Linked DNA regions of Homo sapiens. The protein of the gene in region 2 interacts with the protein of the main gene of each other region in a biochemical or structural test. Each region holds a gene or a part of one and is shown on either strand. Other genes may lie near its edges.

Region 1 (7,112 bases), on a different chromosome or scaffold from region 2:
CTTCCCAAGTAGCTAAGATTATAGGCATGTGCCACCAAACCCAGCTAATTTTTTTGTATTTTTAGTAGAGATGGGAGTTCACCATGTTGGCTGGGCTGGTCTCTAACTCCCGACCTCAAGTGACCCGCTGTCCTCGACCTCCCAAAGTGCTGGGATTACAGGCGTGAGCCACTGTGCCTGGCCTCAATCTTCTCTTAATAAAATACTTAAACTATGTCTTTTCATGCAAAACGCGAGAGGGAGATAACAAACAGCAGCACCAAAATAACTTTTAAAAATCATTAAATCTACAAGGTACCTATCGTTTCATTTTCTACTTTTGGATTAAGTTTTTCCATTTATCATTAATAACCCAAGGGCTAACTTGTATATCTGCTCTATCAGATTTAACTGGGAAAAAAAATAAAGAGAAAAAACAAAACAAACAAGGTAAGTAATTTTACCAAGAACAAGCCTGTAACTCAAGGCAAGAAAAGCTTCTTCCTTGGCATTATTCCCTGTAGTTACACATTGTTGACATATTCCAAGAAGAGCTTTAGGAGAAAAGGTCAAATAAGTAACCCATCTGATTGTGATGAAAATTCAGAGGTAATTAAATGGTAACTCATTTTTGGTCCCAAACAACTTTAAGAGTCATACGTATGTGGTGTGTTTTTGAAGGGAAGTAAACTAATGAGATAACTTTAAGACTGTCCTTTTAAAACTTTTATTATATTTGGCAAGGAGAAAGCTTAAATGTGATGTTGTTCCTCCTTTTTCCTCTTCACAATAAAGGAACCCGTCCAGCCACACCAAGTTTAAGAGCCCAATGCGTATGGAATTAAGGAAATATGTGTGATTTTTCCTTAAGAGGGAAAAACAAAAGCCCCCATATTTTTCTGAAGCTCAATTTCAAATATTTCCCTTCCCTAATATTTGAGAAAGCCATGTAATAAGGCATTAATTATTCTAACGTAAATTAATTCATATGAATCAAATATTTCATTAAACATATGAGTACACCACCATGTTGTAGGTGAAAAGAAAAATAAAATGTAAGTGGTCACCAGTTATGCACAAATTATATACTTTATTTTTAAAAAGAAAACTAATCACATTAGTGAATAAAGGTATATTAATGGAAACTTGAAAAATTACTATTGTTCTTCTAAGACATCTACCCATGAATAGAATACCTTCTGAAAAGAATCTTCATCTGTTATGTCATAAACTAAAATCGCTCCATTTGAATCTCTGTAGTAAATTGGACCCAATGCATGGAATCTCTCTTGACCTGCCGTATCCTAAAGAAAGCAACAAATGCTTATTAGATCAGAAGAAAAATACAAATCTGCGATTGCAACTATGGTGAACTTTTTGATTAATTGGAAAATATGGCATAAAGTCAAAGACAACCACAAAACCCTATTAACAGAAACAAAACAGCAAAACAGGCCACACACAAAATTTTTAAGTTATGACCAATATGTAATGTTTTAGTGATATACAAAAGTTACTTTTTCCCTCCCAACCTTCCTCCTCCTCAGCACTTCCCCACCCCCATTAAAATACCAGTTTCAGTTGCCAGAGGGTCAAAACAACCAACACAGTATTATAAGCCAGGAATAGGCTCTGCCCTAAGTTTAAGTTCCCACACTGGGAGAGACAGGGAAATGGCACGTGCATCAAGATCACCAGTCAAGAAGTATCTGCTGCATTATCCTCACCCACCAGCCATTCTCTTAGAAGGCTGGAATATGGAGACACAGGGTGGGGAAAAAAAGGCCAGGCAAGCTGTCCACCCACCCTGTCCTCTCTCTGAAGTGGAACCCCTCTGAGTTGACCCTTCTCCAACTGAAAAGTTATGACAGCAATATTCAAATATACAATTATATTCCAGATATAATTCTCAACCAGATTTTAAGATTCTTTTTAATTAAAAAAAAAAAAAAGTGTTGGCTAAGCTCCAATTAACTTTAAAAAAAAAGAAAAAAGGAAGAAGCCTCCACGCATAATAGTTGAAAAAGTTCACTTACCCATATGGCAAGGTTTACTCTTTTCCCACCAATATTTAACTTCTTTGTTAAGAATGATGCCTAAAAAGAGAAATAAACATTAAACAATGTTTCTTATAAAATAAGGTTCTTTATCCTAACAACTATAGATGAATGAATCATCTCAATGTAAAAGTTATCTGGGAGAAAAAGTAATCACCGAGTTTTAAATTAATGATCGAAATTGTTTCATTAAAGATAAGACATTATTTACATTTTTATCTAAAAAAAAATCTTGTTTTCTGAAAATAGGTTATACAAAACACACAGAAAATAAGTATTTTTTTCTTAATATTTTTCCTTATCTATGTGGAACAAAATTTTCCCTAGAGCATTTAATTTGATGCTACCTTATCACAGAAAGAAAGAGTCTAAGAGATTTCTAAGATAAAATAAATGTTTACTGGTGGTTTACTTAATGTACAAATATCAATATTATTCAAAATGATTCCACAGTTACTTCATAACTCAATTGTTTAACATATATTCAATAATTATCCTAAGTATTAATGTCAGAGAAATGAAGGGACACGGTTCTACCCTTTATACTCTACTAGAGAAATAAAAATAAAGAGAATTACGATTCCATGTGATAATTGCTAAAATGGAGGGTCTTGCCAAATACACTGTAAAGATAGTACTGAGAAAGGAAGTATAACAGTTGTCTGAATGAGTCAAAGAAGGCTTCAGAGAGAAGGTAATGATCTCCCCTTTAGGAGCAGTAGGGACTGTTCCTGATAGATGAGTGAAGCCACTGAAGCCTCAAACACATGACTCCATCCCACAGGGAACTCCAAGTGGGTATGGTCAATACCAGAGATGAAACTACACAGATGGACTTTACCTTGTGGGTCTCAACAAAACCTGTTCTAAGACACCAGACATGTATTTAGACACACACACACACACGTCAAGTATACTTTGGAAATACTATGTATTGATTTTTATACACCAACAATGCACATTAACACATTAGGATGCTGCCAAAAGGAAGGCTAGCTGACTGTATTTATACAAGCATTTCCCAAACTCATTTGAACTTTTTTTCCCTGATTTTCTTCTGTATAGCACTGAACCTTTTTTTCCTGGAAAAATACCAAATTCATCCTAAAGAACAACTGTTTGAAGAAACAGGACTACTGACAAGGGAGAATCACTGAATGGTTTCAAGCAATGGGGAAACAGATCTATATTTTAAGAGAATGACCCTGGGATAGGAAGGGAGGTTGGACTAGAAAAGATAGGTAGAAAGAACACTTACAAAATTGGAGAAAAATATAAAAAAGGAGATCTGAACTAAGACCATGAAGATAGGAAAGAAAGAAGAGTATCAAGAGTTACTGAAGACAAAATATATCCAGAATCCAGAGTCAGCTGACGTGTTTAAAAAAAAGGAATAGAGAGCTGAGTTCAGACCTGTATAGAGATAGTCACATTTAGGTGTTATTTATATAGAAGAAAGTGCAAAGAAGGTGAAACAGATAAAAGGTCAGGATGGTGAATTACTGAAGGAAAGAAACAATTGAGATTTCTTTTACCTCAATTTCAGGAAGGTCTTTTTGCTATGGGCACACCACAGAAAATTAGAACTAAGAAAAGGCCACTGGATGTAGTGATTAACCAAGGAGTCTACAGATAAATATAAATGGCAGAGCTGGGTTCAAACCCATGTATGTCTGCCTTCAAGGCCCAAGCTATCCTCAAGATATTTTGTAAATAAAATAAAAATTATACAGAAAAGAAGAAAAATTAAATGCCAAAACAGCAAAGTAACCTGAAAAATGAGAAGACCAAATACATGTTATGACAATAAATGTCTTCTCCCATTCATGCTAGCATAGGAGCTAAGAATATGAACTTTGGAGCAGAACCTGTGGATTTGAATCTCAGCTTTGCCACATACTAGCTGTGTAATTTATTTGAACTCAATCATTTTCATGGTTTCAATATCAATGCCACATGGAAAAAAAACAAAATCTGAATCCTATCCGAATATTTAATGGATAGGTCAATTTAAGTGCCTCTTTTTCAAACACATGTAAGAAAGACTGAACCGATCTTCTCCCCAAAATTGGATTTTCATTCTGACTTTAGTATTTTGATCACATTCGCCTTCTCATTGAAGTTTAGAAACTTGGAAATATCTTCTTAAGCCCTTGTCAGTCTATATGCCTCCAAAATCTACCAAGCCTTGTCTTCACATTTCCTCTGGGGTCTATGACCACCAGTCTCTTATTATATCGTAACATAAATACCTCTGGTTCACCTTACACCCCGCTCTGCATGCCATATTATCTTCCCAAAGCTTCCCTGGTTAAAACAAAAACAAAAACAAAACAAACAAAAAAAACCCCACAACAACAACTTACAACTCATCGAAGGGTTCCCTAACAGGTTATCATTTTTAATAAGTATGCTTGAACATCCCTGCTGACAGCTAATATCATAACCTTTTGGTCATGAGTGTTGTGGAGATTTCTCAGAAGAAGGGAGTGCATCAGAGTTGGTAAAGCTGCCTCATTTCTTTTCTACCATCCCCTCTGAAATTTCCCACCACTCTCCCACGGCAAATTTAAAGGACGGTATTAAGTCTCCATTAAGGAACTATGGATACACAAAAACACTTGTACGGAAAGGGTACACATGACAACACTGATTATATAGAAAAACAAAAACAATGAAATTATCTGTGTTCATTAATAGGTAAGTAGTTAAAAATTCACAAAAATAGCCATCCATGCAGTAAAAACACTACACAGTCATTTCTACTACTGCTGCTAATACTAGCTAACATTTATTAAATGTTTATTTTGTGCCAAGTACTGTGCTATGCACTTTTCACAAAATCATTCATAAGCTGCTTCTTTATAAAAGTTGGGGAGCCCACATTTACAATTAAAAGTCTCAAAGCCTTATCTTTATATCCAAAGACTTCCACAACGTGTCCACATCTATCTTCTTAGGACAGCTTCCAATATTTCTTTACTTATTCTCCAACTTATATGGCTTTTTTGCATCCTCTTCAATTCTTCTGTCCATAAAATTCCACTCTAATTTGAGCCTATTCTCTGTTCTCTATCTGAATTCCACCTATCCAAATATGGCTCTTTTTCCTTGAAATTTCATGTTCTCTTATACTCATGCACGCAATGCACACAAATTTTTCTAGCCTGAAGAATTTTAGGGAATCAACTCTGCATTTACTGCAGCTTATACTGTCTTATACTATAAATTATCTTTTCATGGGTATAAGTATTCTGTTAACTAGACTACATATTTTTATTTAACGTTTCTACAGCACTTACAATGAAATGGGCAGTGTTCTAAGAGCTTCTCAAATATTAATTCACTTAATTCTCAGGTGCCAATAACACCCTGTGAGTCAGAGATAATTGTTACCCATGTATTACAGATGTGGAAAATGAGGCATAAGGAGGGTAAATATCTTGCCCAAGGTCACACAGTAAGTGACACAGTGCCACTTGAAATCCCAGGCAGTTTGGCTCCAGATATTAATTATAACTACTATGCTACGATACTTCTCAGACTGAGATCTGAGCTCTCTAACACTTCCACTCTTGTGGAAGAAGTGGGTGGAAGTCATAGTACCCTGCCCATAATTGACAATCAAATACTGTTATTATAGATAAGCACATCTACAATATGCCCAGGTAAATCAATGCAGGTATAACTCAATTTAGTAGGAGATATGCTCCTAAGTTTCCTTCTTAATCAAATTATTTTAACTCATATATATGATGCACTAGTAAAGCATATTATCAAAGGATCCCTAGTAAATATTTTTTTCCTTCATAATGAAAAACTTAAGCCCTGCTCTATGGAAAGATTCTGTTTCGTAAATCATCTCATTTGATATAAATCCTAAGTTTTTAATATTTTATAGACATTTTCTTCAAGGGAGAACTCTTTTTAAAAAACTTTAGAAAACTTTTTTAAAAAATAAAATTATGAATATATTTAAGAAGAAAGCTGAAACATCAAGATAGCAACAAACAGGTATAAAAATAGGCACGTAGACCAATGGAACAATAGAGAACGCAGAAATAAAGCCAAATACTTACACTTACCTGATCTTCGACAAAGCATATAAAAACAGAAATTTGGGAAAAGATAGCCTATTTAACAAAAGGTGCTAGGAAAACTGGCAAGCCACATGTAGAAGAATGAAATTGGATCCTCATCTCTCACCTTATACAAAAATCAACTCAAGATGGATCAAAGACTTAAATCTAAGAACTGAAACCATAAAAATTCTAGGGGATAACATTGGAAAAACTCTTCTAGACATTGGCTTAGAGAAAGAATTCATGACTAACACCCCAAAAGCAAATGCAACAAAAACAAAAATGAATAAATGGTACCTAATTAAACTGAAACGCTTCTGCACAGCAAAATAAATACTCAGCAGAGTAAACAGACAACCCAGAGTGGAAGAAAATGTTCGTAAACTAAGCATCCAACAAAAGACTAATATCCAGAATCTACAAGGAACTCAAACATATCAGCAAGAAAAAAACAACCCCATCAAAAAGTGGGCAAAGGACATGAAAAGACAATTCTCAAAAGAAGATATACAAACAGCCAACAAACGTATGAAGAAATGCTCAACATGACTAATTATCAGGGAAATGCAAATTAAAATCACAATGACATACCCCTTACTCCTACAAGAATGACCATAATTAGTCAAAATAACAATAGATGTTGGTGTGGATGTGATGAAACGGGAACACTTTTACACTGCTGGTGGGAACGTAAACTAGAACAACCACTAAAGAAAACAGTATGGAGATTACTTACAGAACTAAAAGCATTATAGATCTATCATTTGATCCAGCAATCCCACTACTGAGTATTTACCCAAAGGAAAAGAAGTTGTCATATGAAAAAGACACATGCACACATGTTTACTGCAGCACAATTCACAACTGCAAAGATATGGAGCCAACCTGAGTGTCCATCAACCAACAAGTGAATAAAGAATATGCGGTATATATACGCCATAGAATACTACTCAGCCATAAAAAGGAATGAAATAATGTCTTTTACAGCAACTTG
Region 2 (7,112 bases):
TGTACTTACAGAACCTAAAAAGAAGTTTTTACAATTCCAGGACATTCTTGGCATTTTTCTCAAGCAACTAAGATTGCAGTTAAATAAGTGTTCCTCTGTGCTAGCTTATTTAAATTCAAGAACTTTTGCAACATGGTTTATTATGTTGATTTTTTGTTGTGTATGTCTAAACTTCCAATTCATCTGTGTCTTCTAAAGTGCACCAACATTGATCAGTTAGTGTGTGAGGGCAGAGGCCTTCATCATAGTAATTTAGTGATCAATAGTGTTTCTTAATAGGATGGGGCATTTTAGAGCTTTTTTTTTTTAAATGTTAACTGTGGTTTTAATAATTAGATTTCTTCTATGTGGCTCATGGTAACTGACCATGTGTTCATATTTTCTTCTAAACTTTTTAGGCGTACAAATCCATTTGGAGAATCTGGAGGAAGTACAAAATCTGAAACTGAAGGTAAGACAGATGTGCAGCATTCATATATTTTAGAACTGCTTCTCAGCAAACTGTGAATAATTTATTGTTTATATTTGCTCTGCTACTAAGCTCAGTTTTAATGCTATCTTTACTTCAGAATTTCCTCTACTTACTTATAGTACACTTGAAGCAACAGAACTTAATCTGACTTAAGATGTTGTGATTCATACAAAACGATAGACTCTCATACTTTTGACTTTATAGTCAAATTCAGTGCCTAAGATACCTTTCAAGCTTTTCCTAACAGCTGATGTTTCTCTTCTGGTACTGGAGCATAAATTTTGTTTTTCCGCCACTAACTATTTATTTGAATTCTAAACTTACAGAAATGCTGTAAGAACCACCAGTTGTTGTGTGTTTGTGTGTGTGTGTGTGTGTTGAGACAGGGCTCCCTATGTTGCCTAGGCTGGTCTCGAACTCCTGGGCTCAAGGGATCCTCCTGCCTTAGCCTCCCAAAGTGCTAGGATTACAGGTGTGAACCACCACGCCTGGCCTCAGAACTGCCAGTTGTTGAAGCATTACTTTTAGCTATTTGAATTTGAAACCCTAATTTTCCTATAACTTGGAATACTGTAGTTAGGAGTTATTTTGAAATGTCTCCCTTAGGCTGTTGAATTTTTCACTAGAAAACCTAAAAGGAGGCAGTGTATTTTATTCTTTTGGAAAAGAAATATGGCGAAAAAAATAAAATGTAAATTTATACAGTAAAAAAAAAATATGTAATACACCTTGTTCTATTATAGATTCTATTCTTCATCAGTTATTTATTGTCCGATTCCTTGGTTCAATGGAGGTGAAATCAGATGACCATCCAGATGTTGTTTATGAAACTATGCGCCAAATCTTAGCTGCCCGGGCCATCCATAACATCTTTCGTATGACAGAATCGCATTTATTAGTCACTTGTGACTGTTTAAAGTAAGTAAAACCCTCCCTTAAAAAACTGTAGAAAAAACATTTACATGATTTCAGCCTAATTAAAATTTGTTTTCCAATTTTTAAATTATTATTTTAGGTTAATTGATCCACAGACACAAGTTACAAGGCTCACGGTGAGTTCCACATGATTTAAGCTTTGTTTTAGGTCCCTTTGTATATATACACATCTTACAACTTGATAATAATCCTGATCCTGTATATTCAAGTGTGATAGTATCAGCTATGATTGGTCTTTGGCTGTTGTAGTTAAGTCTATGGCCATCTCCAAAAAGTTGTCATTGAACATTTTATGTAACTTAAAAGAATTAACACAATTCTTTTTGTAATTTTTTTAACACAGTTCTTTTTGACTTTGTAAAATGTGTTAATGACTAATAAAACAAATGTAATATTCAACAACCTTTTTCTGCTTGTTAATTCAAACCAAATATGACATTACTTGTTTCTGCATTACAAGTCTGTTAAAATAATTGGCTTTAATATATTAAAATATTTATATTTTTAGAACTTAGCATATGAGTTTGTCACAAGTGCTGCTGTAATGACTTGTAAGATCTCATGTTTGCTTCTGATGTTTTCTGTGGCAGTTTCCATTACCTTGTGTAGTTTTGTATGCTACACACCAGGAAAATAAGCGCCTTTTTGGATTTGTTCTTCGGACATCAAGCGGGAGAAGTGAAAGTAATCTGTCATCAGTCTGCTATATATTTGAGTCAAACAATGAGGGGGAAAAGGTACATGGCTTTTCAGAATATCTCTGTCATAACCACTTACTAATTGATTCTTACTAAGATTTAATAATAATTAAATTCTTACAAATTAAATTAGTTAGTAATTACTGATTGAATTCTTTACAATTTATACAAATTTATGAGGCACATGTGAATTTTGTTACATGTATAGAATGTACAGTAAGCAAGTCAGGGTATTTAGGGTGTCCATCATCCAAGTACAATACATTTTTGTGAAGTATAGTCACCCTACTCTGCTGTCAGATATTAAATATATTCTTTCTATCGTAATTTATGGTTGTACCCTTTAATCAGCTTTTCTTCATCCTCCCCCTTTCCTCATCACTCAGCCTTCCCAGTCTCTGTTGTCTGTCATTCCACACTCTGCCTCCACGTGATCAATTTTTTGGCTCCCACATACAAGTGAGAACATGTGATATTTGTCTTTTTGTGCCTGGCTTATTTCACGTAAGATAATGACTTCTAGTTCCATCCACGTTGTTGTGAATGACATGATTTCATTCTTTTTATGGCTGAATAGTACTCCATTGTGTATATGTACCACATTTTCTTTATTCATTTATCTGTTAATGAACATTTAGATTGACTTAATATCTTTGCTATTGTGAATAGTACTACAGTAAACATGTGAGTGCAGGTATCCTTTTGATACAGATTTCTTTAATTTTGGGTAGATACCCAGTAGTGGGATTGTTGGATCGAATGGTAGTTCTATTTTTAGTTTTTGTTGTTGTTGTTGTTTTTGAGACGGAGTTTCACTCTGTCGCCCAGGCTGGAATGCAGTGGTGCGATCTTGGCTCACTGCAACCTCTGCCTCCTGGGTTCACGCCATTCTCCTGCCTCAGCCTCCCGAGTAGCTGGGATTACAGGTGCCTGCCACCATGCCCGGCTAATTTTTTGTATTTTTAGTAGAGACGGGGTTTCACCGTGTTAGCCAGGATAGTCTTGATCTCCTGACCTCGTGATCTGCCTGCCTCAGCCTCCCAAAGTGCTGGGATTACAGGCGTGAGCCACCATACCCGGTCTATTTTTAGTTTTTTGAGAGATCTCCATACTGTTTTCCATAGTGGTTGTACTAGTTTATGTTCCCACCAACAGTGTATGAGTTCCCCTTTTTTCTGCATTTCACCAACATCTGCTATTTTTTGTCTTTTTAGTGATAGCCATTCTGACTAGGGTAAGAATGGCTCATTGTCATTTTGATTTGCATTTCTCTAATGATTAGTAATGTCGAGCATCTTTTCATATACCTGTTGGCTGTTTTTGTGTCCTTTAAGAAATGCATATTCATATCCTCTGCATACTTTTAAGTGGGATTATTTGATTTTTTCCCTGTTGAGTTCGTTGTATATTCTGGATATTAGTCCCCAGTTGGATGAACAGTTTGCAAATAATTTCTCCCATTCAACAGGTTGTCTGTTTACTCTGTTATTTCTTTGGCTATGCAGACACTTTTTAGTTTAAGTCCCATTTGTTTATTTTTATTGCCTATACTTTTGAGGTCTTAGGCATAAAATCTTTGCCGAGACCAATGTGCAGGAGAGTTTTCCCTTCATTTTCTTCTAGTGTTTTTTTTTTCTATGGAAAATAACCTTTTTTTTTTTTTTTTTTTTTTTTTGAGACAGACTCTTGCTCTGTTGCCCAGGCTGGAGTGCAGTGGCACAATCTTGGCTCACCGTAACCTCCACCTCCTGGATTAAAGTGATTTTCCTGCCTCAGCTCCCAAGTAGCTGGGACTACAGTTGTGTGCCACCATGCCCGGCTAATTTTTTTAGTAGAGACAGGATTTCACCATGTTGGCCAGGCTGGTCTTGAACTCCTGACCTCAAGTGATCCACCTGCCTTGGCCTCCCAAAGTGCTGGGATTACAGGCATGAGCTGCCACACCCAGCTGGAAAAAGAACCTTTAATAGAACAATTATTGAGAATATCGTACTAACAAAGTTTCTCAAGAGACTAATTAGAGCTAAAATGGTGAAAGTAGGATGATCTTTGTTTTTCGTTTTTTGTGGGTACAAGGGGTGTGTGTGTGTGTGTGTGTGTGTGTGTGTGTGTATGCATTTTTTTTTTTTTTTCCAGATGGAGTCTTGCTGTGTCACCTGGGCTGGAGTGCAATGGCGCGATCTTGGCTCATTGCAACCTCCGCCCCCTCGGGTTTAAGCGATTCTCCTGCCTCAGCCTCCTGAGTAGCTGGGTCTATAGGCATGCGCCACCACGCCCAGCTAATTTTGTATTTTTAGTAGAGACAGGGTTTCTCCATGTTGGTCAGGCTGGTCTCAAACTCTCGACCTCAGATGATCCGCCTGCCTCGGCCTCCCAAAGTGCTGGGATTACAGGTGTGAGCCACCTCGCCCAGCCAGGTGTATATATTTATGCAGTACATGAAATATTTTGCTACACTTATGCAATGCGTAATAACCACATCATGGAAAATGGAGTATTCCTTCCCTTAAGCATTTATCCTTTGTATTAGAAACAATCCAATTATACTCTTTTAGTTATTTTTAAATGTACAATTATTATTGACCGTAGTCCCCCGTTCTATCAAATACCAGGTTTTATTCATTCTATTTTTTTTTTTTAATCATTAACCATCCTCCCACCCCCCATCCCCACACTACCCTTCTCAGCCTCTGGTAACCACCCTTCTGTTCTCTGGCTCCATGAGTTCAATTGTTTTGATTTTTAGATCCCACAGATAAGTGAAAACATGCAATATTTGTCTTTCTGTGCCTGGCTTATTTTGCTTAACATAATGACCTCCATGTTCCATATATCTTATTGCAAATGACAGAATCTCATTCTTTTTTATGGCTGAATAGTACTCCATTGTATGTAAGTACCACATTTTCTTTATCCATTTTCTTTATCCATGTATCATCCATTCAAATGACAGAATCTCATTCTTTTTTTCTGGCTGAATAGTACTCCATTGTGTGTGTGTGTACATTTTCTTTATCCATTCATCTGTTGTTTTTTTTTTTTTTCCATTCATCTGTTGATGGACACTTAGGTGGCTTCCAAGTTTTAACTATTGTGAACCGAGCTGCAGCAAACATGGGAGTGCAGATGTCTCTTCAATATACTGATTTCCTTTTTTTAGGTATATACCCAGCAGTGGGATTGCTGGATCATATGGTAGCTCTATTTTTAGTTTTTTGAGGAACCTCCAGACTTTTCTCCATAGTGGTTATACTAATTTACATTCCCACCAACAGTGTACAAGGGTTCCCTTTTCTCCACATGCTTCCCAGCATTTGTTATTGCCTTTTTGCTATAAGCCATTTTAACTGGGGTGAGATGATACATTGTAGTTTTGATTTGCATTTCTCTGATGATCAGTGATGTTGAGGACCTTTTCATATGCCTGTTTGCCATTTGTATGTCTTCTTTTGAAAAATGTCTATTCAAATATTTTGCCCAGTTTTAAATCAGATTAAGGTTTTTCCTATAGAGTTGTTTGAGCTCTTTGTATATTCTGGTTATTAATCCCTTGTCAGATGAGTAGTTTACAAATATTTTCTCCCATTCTGTGGCTTGTTTCTTCACTTTGTTGATTGTTTCCTTTGCAGTGCAGAAACTTTTTAACTTGATGAGATCCCATTTGTCCATTTTTGCTTTAGTTGCCTGTGCTTGTGGGGTATTACTCAAGAAATTTTTGCCCAGACTGATGTCCTGGAGAGTTTCCCCAATATTTTCTTGTAGTAGTTTCATAGTTCAAGGTCTTAGATTTAAGGCTTTAATCCATTTTAATTATATTTAAAAAAATTTAAAAAAAAATAAAAAAAATAAAAAAAAATTTTTTTAAAAAATATTTTTGTATATGGTGAGAGAGAGGGGTCTAGTTTTATTCTTCTACATATGGATATCCAGTTTTCCCGGCACCATTTATTGAAGGGACTGTCTTTTCCCCAATGTATATTCTTGGTGCCTTTGTCAAAAATGAGTTCGCTGTAGTTGTGTGGATTTGTTTCTGGATTCTCTATTCTGTTGCACTGGTCTATGTGTCTTTTTTTTTTTTTTTTGCCAGTACCATGCTGTTTTGGTTACTATAGCTCTGTAGCATTGTAATTTGAAGTCAGGTAATGTGATTTCTCTAATTTTGTTATTTTTGCTCAGAATAACTTTGGCTATTCTGAATCTTTTATGATTCCATATACATTTTCAGATTGTTTTTTCTATTTCTGTGAAGAATGCCATTGGTTTTTTGATAGGGATTGCATTGAATCTATAGATTGCTTTGGGTAGTATGGACATTTTAACAATATTGATTCTTCCAATCCATGAACGTGGAATATGTTTCCATTTTTGGTGTCCTCTTCAATTTCTTTCATCAGTGTTTTATAGTTTTTTGTTTTTTTTGTTTGTTCTTTTGAGACAGAGTCTCATTCTATTGCCCAGGCTGGAGTGCAGTTGCATAATCTCGGCTCACTGCAATGTCTGCCTCCCAGGTTCAAGTAATTCTCATGCCTCAGCCTCCCAGGTACCTGGGATTACAGGTATGCGCCACCACCACCTGGCTAATTTTTGTATTTTTAGTAGAGATGAGGTTTCACCATATTGGCCAGGCTGGTCTCAAACTCCTGGCCTCAAGTGATCCACCTGTCTCGGCCTCCCAAAGTGCTGGGATTACAGGCCTGAGCCACTGCGCCCAGCCTGTAGTTTTCATTATAGAGATCTTTCACTTTGGTTAACTCCTGGGTATTTAATTTTATCTGTGGCTATTGTAAGTGAGATTACTTTATTTATTTCTTTTTCAGATTGTTCACTGTTGGCATATAGAAATGCTACTAATTGTTGTATGTTGATTTTGTATCCTGAAACTTTACTGAATTCATCAGTTCTAATAGTTTTTTGGTGGAGTCTAGGTTTTTCTAAATATAAGATCATCATATCATCTGCAAACAAGGATAGTTTGACTTCTTCCTTTACAATTTGGATGCCTTTTT
Region 3 (7,112 bases), on a different chromosome or scaffold from region 2:
GGAGAGGGTAAAATCTCAACATGAGTTTCAAAGTACTGTCTCTGTGAGGGGCCGGTAGATGCCTTGCTGAGGAGGGGATGGCTAAGTTTGACCATGCCCCATCCCCAGCTAGGAGAATGGAAATGGAAAGTTTATTGCCCAGTGGGTGTGAAAGTGGGCTGAAGCTTGGTTGGTACTGAATTCTCTAAGAGGTTTCTTCTAGAAACAGACAACTCAGACTCTTCCTCTCACTTCAGCAAAGAAGTTATTTTTAAAAGCACTTGGGAAGTTCCTCCTCCACCCCGCAGGTGGGAAGGCTCAGAGAAGGGTGTCATCAGTACAGCCGCCTTCTAGGCCGTAACGGAATTCCTGAAGGTTGGAGACTCCATAGAAGTGGACAAAGGCTGCTGCCACCACCAGGACATGGAAAATCTGATGAGACTGGAACTGTAGGAATAAAAAGAAAAGAGCCTTTAGGATAATGCAAGGAGGAATAAGAAACAAGTAGGAGAAAGCATTTGCTTCTTCTAGTTTATCCTTAATTAAACAAATTTGTTAATAACATTAAAGTGGTATATTTAGAAAGTTTTAAAAACACAGTCCTTGTCAGAGATACACCAAAATGTTAATATTGATGATTTACCTTCAATGCACATATATGTACCTCCAAACACTATATGATCCCAGTCTCATACCACCTTTTCCTCAGCCCTTTAACTTTGGGCTGTTCACTCACCATCACAGGACCTGCTGGAAGATTCATTTCTTACCCATATGTCAAATTTTCCAGGAAAGAAGCGCTCAGGAATTCGAGCAGCATAAAGGCCAGCTCCAGTGATGTACATCACAGCCATGAGGAAGAACCAGCCCATCTGGCCCACTGTGGTGGCCTTGACAAAGCCCTCAGCGATAGTAAAGTGCATGGTGGGCACGACGCCACTCAAGCCAAGTCCCAGGAACACGCCTGAACAGAACAGACATAAGACTGTCAAACAAGGAAACAGCCACCGCATGGAAGGCACTGCTGTCTTACTCTGGAATTTCAATGTTTATGATAATTAGCTATTTTTGGATGAATAGTACATGTTTAGGAAACTTAGCTACAAGATGGATAACACTCAACAGATATTTCTTCTATGTCCTGAATGGGAAGAAGCTGTGTAAGTGCTTACTACCTTTTAAGCACCAAGAACAAAGATCTCATATTCTTCATTATCTGTTAAGGAATTTAGGTAAAAATGGTATGTCAAGACTCTCTGATGGCTAACTTGGGTACAGAACTTAGATGTCAAGGCTTCAGTTGCCTCCCAAGTCAGAGAAGCATAGGATAGGCTTCCTGTTAAGATCATAAAAGTCTTACATAACCAGAACTCTGACCTCCTGAGTAGACAGATATACCCAGATTAGCAGTTATCCTGTAGCTGCTGGGACACACAAGTAAGGCAAGAGCAAGGGAAGAATGGGTATGTGTCTCATCATTACACTACACATAACTGAAGGGCAGGGACCACCTCTCCATCTTTGTAAATACCTTTGTTTAAGCACAGTGCATGGCACGTGGCTGGTGCTTGATAAATATTTAATTATTATTATTTTTTTCTTTTCTTTCTTTCTTTCTTTTTTTTTTTTGAGATAGAGTCTTGCTTTGTTGCCCAGGCTGGAGTGCAGTGGCGTGATCTTGGCTCACTACAACCTCTGCCCCCGACCAGGTTCAAGTGATTCTCCCGCCTCAGCCTCTCAAGTAGCTGGAATTACAGGCACCTGCCACAACGCCGACTAATTTTTATATTTTAAATAAAAACAGGGTTTTACCATGTCGGCCAGGCTGGTCTCAAACTCCTGACTTCAAGTGATCCGCCTGCCTCGGCCCCCCAAAGTGCTGGGATTACAGGCGTGAGCCACTGCTCCCGGACAATATTTAATTATTTTAACTGAAGGTTAAAACATAGCAGATATTAATTGTAAAGGGACTAAAGACTAGTGGTAATTGGTGGTGTTGCTGCAAGTAATAAAAGCTTAAAATAAGAGTCCAGATGAGATGAGACAACACAAAGATGTTTATGCTTGTAGCTATTACTTTGTTACCTGTTTATGCTCAAGGTATTTTCATTCACCAAACCAGGTATTCCATTCCCTTAGTAAAATGCCTCTGAGTGTTTTAATTTTAATCCCTTGGTCTGAGCTTGGGACTCGGGTCACTAAAATTACTGTGCTTGCTACATTTTTAAACTGTCACAAACCAAGTATAAGAGTAGCTACATCTGTGCTTGCAGTTAATTGACCAGCTGGGTAATGATCTGTCCTATTGGCATTCTACTGAAATAGTATGACACTGGGGGTTGAGAACTGAGCTTTGAAATTGATGCTGTTTTGAAAGTTCTGAAACACAAATCAGGGTTTGGGTGGGGTTCTCAAGCTGCAAACCTTAAGGCTCAAATAGGTTTGAGCCTATCAGGCCTAAGGTCTAAATACCTCTGAGGTGTACGTACATCTTCCGACCTACCTGCTCTTGTCTGCCGGTGCTTAGGAGTGGCAAACCGGTCCCACTGCGCCACAATGATGGCAGAAATGCCCAGGACACAGACGATGGAGAGGTAGATGAGCCGTGGCTGTGGGGAGCAGTAGAAGGAATAATAGAGCCAGGGGACAAAGCTCCCCATAATTAGAAGAGCAATCCCTGAATAGTCCAGTCTAAAAAGAACCACAAAAATGAAACAAATCAGTGGGGGAAATGAATTTGTATGGCTCATTTAACTAGCTCTTTCTGTTCTCCACCTGCTCCCAGATTTAACCATTCCCTCAATCTATCCTGTATTGTAGACTCCCATACAATCTATCCTGTATTCTGGATTAAAATTCCACAAGGTCACTTCTATTTTACGATGGAAAAATCTCTAAGAATCCCCATTCAAAGAACTCTATCCCTTTCCCTTACTAGTGAACAGCCGTATCTCCCATAGTAGACACTTGAATTTAGAAATTCCATCACAATCCAGCTGGTTCCCAGCATCACACTCAGGAAAGGCTTTGAAAATTCTCCTATTCTGATAGAATGAGTTCTAAAAACAAAATTCTTAAATTGGGAGTAGTATTAAGGGATACTCTAGCTTTTTCTATCTTAGTTGACTTTTTAAATGAGGAAAATGTACCTTCTTACTGGTGTTGTTAGAAAAAACAAAATAATACACCACTGTCGCCACCAAAACCAACAATAACAACAAAAACAAGCAAACAAATAGAACCTCAGGCTCACGGCTGGGCAAGAGAGAAAGCACACGATGATGGACATCTGGAGCTTCCAGCAATGCATGGGCAGCAAAGATAAGCTTTACTTGACTGCTGGGTAGGAGCACCAGCAGAATGAAGCATAGACTATTTACCACACCCTACTTTGGCTTGGGCTAATAGTAAGTTACGCTTGTACAAGGTCTTGGAAAGCAGCCAGTGCACTGGCACTCTAAGCCTCACAAAAGATAGTGCTTTTCAGGTAGAAAATATATTCCACAATTGGTCTCTCCATCTGTTGAAGAGGATGCAGTAAGTCTGTTCATGAAGTGTTTAAGAGAAAAGCTTCATCACCCCACTATCGCCACAGAACAGAGAGCCTTTCCTCTGGCATATCAAGAAACCTTTAGGAGTGATATGAGCTCCTATCACCCAGTAAGCACTGGGATCTCAAGATGTGACAACAGTGCACAGTATTTTCCTATGGTGTTCTTTTAACTCACTTGGAAAAAGTCCGAGAGACTTTCTCTGAATGACAATAGACGGTGTGAAAGAGCCAGGAGAAGCTGAGGCAGAGCACTGCACCCAAAAAGAACATCCCAAAAACCACCTTCTCCTGTAGAGGGGCCATGAAGTACATATTTGGTCTGAGCATGGTCAAGATTCCCAAAAAGAGAAACAGCACGAAACCTGCAGGAGGGTAAAATAAAAAAAACCTGTAAGAAAAAAGGGAATGTGTACACTTTGATGGTTGATGTTTTTGAATCAGAGAGCTACAGGCAACATCACTAATCATCAGGGAAATACAAATTAAAAGCACAATGAAATACCACCTTACTTCTGCAAGAAAGGCCATTATTAAAAAGTCAAAAAACAACAGATGTTGGCATGGATATGGTAAAAGGGGAATGCTTATACACTCCTTGTGGGAATGTAAATTATAAACTAGTATAACCTCTATGGAAAAGGGTATAGAGATTCCTTAAAGAACTAAAAGTAGAGCTACTATTTGATCCACCAATCCCACTACCAGGTGTCTACCCAAAGGAAAAGCAGTCATATGAAAAAGACACATGCACATGTATGTTTATTGTAGCACAATTCACAACTCTAAAGATATGGAACCAACCTAAGTGTCCATTGACCAATGAGTGAATAAAGGAAATGTGGTGTATGTACACCATGGAATACTACTCAGCCATAAAAAGGAATGCAATAATGTCTTTTGCAGCAACCTGGATGAAGCTGAAGGCCACTATTCTAAGTGAAGTAACTTAGGAATGAAAAATCAAATACTGTATATGTTCTCACTTATAAGTGGGAGCTAAGCTATGAGTACGCAAAGGCATATAGAATGATATAATGGACTATGGAGACTTAGAAGCGGGAGGGGGAGATAGGGGTGTGAGACAGAAAAACTACATATTGAGTACAATGTACACTACTAAGGTGATGGGTGCATTAAAATCTCAGAATTCACCAGTATATAATTCATCCATGTAACCAAACCCCCCCCCACCCCTTTGTAACCCAAGAGCTATTGAAATAAAAAAAAAATCAGAAAGCTATGAGGTTTAGCTGTGTAATTGCAGTCCAATGTTTCAAAGAAAGTGGCACTGGTCACAGAAACCCAGACAAAAAAGACCATTTTTTGAAATGTTGGCATTTTACTTTTACAGTTGGAAATTACGAAGTACAAGGAATTGTCTCCACCTAGAACAGTTCTGCCAGGGATCACAAAAAAATATCTAGTCCCAATTTCTTTGGTTTCTAGGCCTTTTACTCTCAGTCTTAAAGATCAGTGATCAAGGGTCAACCAAGGTTATTAGCTTAAAGTCATTAGTAGTTTAAAGGTAGAATCCCAGCTGCCAATCGATCTGAACAACTTTGTTGGGCTCTATAATCCCTTCGCAGTTAGGGAGACAACAAATTCCACCTTTCCCCATCCAAATCACTCACCAAGCAGATGGGTCCAGATGTTGCCAGTTTCTGTATGAATGCGGAAGATGCTCTTGAAGCAAGCCCGAAAGGAGGGCATGGGAGGTCTATGACCATGTAGCAGATAGTCGTTGTCCTTTAGCCAGTCAGGGAGCACATCATATGGGATGACCCTCCAACGTCCCTCCCAGACCTAGAACATATACACTTTCTCTGGGTAGGGCACTAGATAGTACCTTCCCCAAGGACAAGCAGTGATGGAGAACTAGTCTAAGAAGATGTCAGTCAGGCTCTGAATGGTCCTAGGTAATAGTGGAGAACCAGCCTGGACTGGGGGATATCCAAGACATAGCATGAATGGGGCTAGCAGAGTCCTGACTCATATTTTGACCATTAAAAAAAAAAAAAAAATCCTGGCTGAGTGTAGCGGCTCATGCCTGTAATCTTAGCACTTTGGGAGGCTGAGGCAGGTGGATCACCTGAGGTCAGGAGTTCAAGACCTGCCTGACTAACATGGTGAAACCCTGTCTCTACTAAAAACACAAAAAATTGGCCGGGCATGGTGGCGGGCACCTGTAATCCCAGCTACTCAGGAGGCTGAGGCAGGAGAATGGTTTGAACCTGGCGGGCGGGGGTTGCAGTGAGCCGAGATTGCACCACTGCACTCCAGCCTGGGCGACCGAGCAAGACTCTGTATTCAAAAAAAACAAAAAAACAAAAACAAACAAACAAAAAATCTCTTTGTCTTTGTTTCATGTTAGTTTATCTGGAGAAGTTTTAGGTAAGTGTTTCTCAACCTTTTAAGAAAATATGGTCCAACCAGGCTGGGCGCAGTGGTTCACGCCTGTAATCCCAGCACTTTGGGAGGCTGAGGCGGGCGGATCACCTGAGGTTGGGAGTTCGAGACTAGCCTGACCAACATGGAGAAACCCCGTCTCTACTAAAAATACAAAAATAAGCCAGGCGTGGTGGCACATGCCTGTAATCCCAGCTACTCGGGAGGCTGAGGCAGGAGAAGTGCTTGAACCTGGCAGGCAGAGGTTGCAGTGAGCTGAGATCGTGCCACTGCAGCTGGGAGACAAGAGCAAAACTCTGTCTCAAAAAAATATATATATATATATGGTACAACCTCCTTTAGGCTACTTGAAATTTCAAAATTGATATACTGAATAAAAACAAAAAAATTATAAACGTTGTTTTAAAAAACGTACAGATCCCTCCTTTGCCCCTCTCCAGGAGATTCTATCTCATGTCTCATCCCTCCCCCAATTAGATTCTAAGTTCTTACCACATCTTTTTAGAGTAGGGGTTCTTAATCTAGGATCCATGCACTATGGACAGGATCCAGGGAATAGATGGAAAAAATTGTATTTCCATTTACCTCTAAGTAAATTGAGCATTTTCCTCAATTATAAGCATAAGCAACAAACCACAGTATTAGTAGAACTTGTGGCTTTGTCACCAATAGAAATCAGATACTCTCACACATTAGTTCTGCAGGTATCTCAAAATACTGTTTCTATTCATCATTACTTAGAAATTACAAATTTTAATAAAATACATTAGTGCTCATCATTCATGTATATTTAATGTGTTAACAAAGGCATTCATATTACTGTCATATTGAAATATTTTGATGACTTCCAAAGGCGCCCCTTGCATAGAAAAGAATCCGTTTTAAGAATATATTTTGAACAATGCCTCACAGAGTAGGCAGTAAAAATTTAGCCAGTCTTCACATTGATTTACCTCATCTTAACCAAAAAACAAATCCACTCCTTCCCAGGAATAAAAGCTCTTCGACCCAGTGCAAGCTTGCTGGCTGGGGACATCCCAGACAGGCCTGCTGCCCTTCCCCTTCCAGGACAGAAGCTCATAGGCCATACCTTGTACACAAACTCTTCCATCTTCTCCATGGCGTGGTGGGCTTGCAGGGGAAGTGTCAGTACCCGCACCTCCTCCTCTTCTTC

What was found.
Region 1: the proteins of APPL1 (region 2) and RAB21 form a complex in vitro, tested with the Homo sapiens proteins (one study listed by BioGRID and IntAct).
Region 3: the proteins of APPL1 (region 2) and ADIPOR1 form a complex in vitro, tested with the Homo sapiens proteins (one study listed by BioGRID).

Annotation. Positions count from the first base shown.
Region 1 is NC_000012.12:71,764,763-71,771,874, reverse strand, and holds part of RAB21 (ras-related protein Rab-21), read right to left. Parts: intron 2,076-7,112; coding exon 2,016-2,075; intron 1,284-2,015; coding exon 1,176-1,283; coding exon of another isoform or gene 1,173-1,175; intron 1-1,172. UniProt on the Homo sapiens protein: The small GTPases Rab are key regulators of intracellular membrane trafficking, from the formation of transport vesicles to their fusion with membranes.
Region 2 is NC_000003.12:57,258,630-57,265,741, forward strand, and holds part of APPL1 (DCC-interacting protein 13-alpha), read left to right. Parts: intron 1-398; coding exon 399-451; intron 452-1,215; coding exon 1,216-1,390; intron 1,391-1,487; coding exon 1,488-1,524; intron 1,525-1,998; coding exon 1,999-2,145; intron 2,146-7,112. UniProt on the Homo sapiens protein: Multifunctional adapter protein that binds to various membrane receptors, nuclear factors and signaling proteins to regulate many processes, such as cell proliferation, immune response, endosomal trafficking and cell metabolism.
Region 3 is NC_000001.11:202,941,276-202,948,387, forward strand, and holds part of ADIPOR1 (adiponectin receptor protein 1), read right to left. Parts: coding exon 7,029-7,112; intron 5,336-7,028; coding exon 5,164-5,335; intron 3,921-5,163; exon of another isoform or gene 3,895-3,920; coding exon 3,708-3,894; intron 2,671-3,707; coding exon 2,483-2,670; intron 944-2,482; coding exon 750-943; intron 427-749; coding exon 298-426; 3' UTR 1-297. UniProt on the Homo sapiens protein: Receptor for ADIPOQ, an essential hormone secreted by adipocytes that regulates glucose and lipid metabolism. Required for normal glucose and fat homeostasis and for maintaining a normal body weight.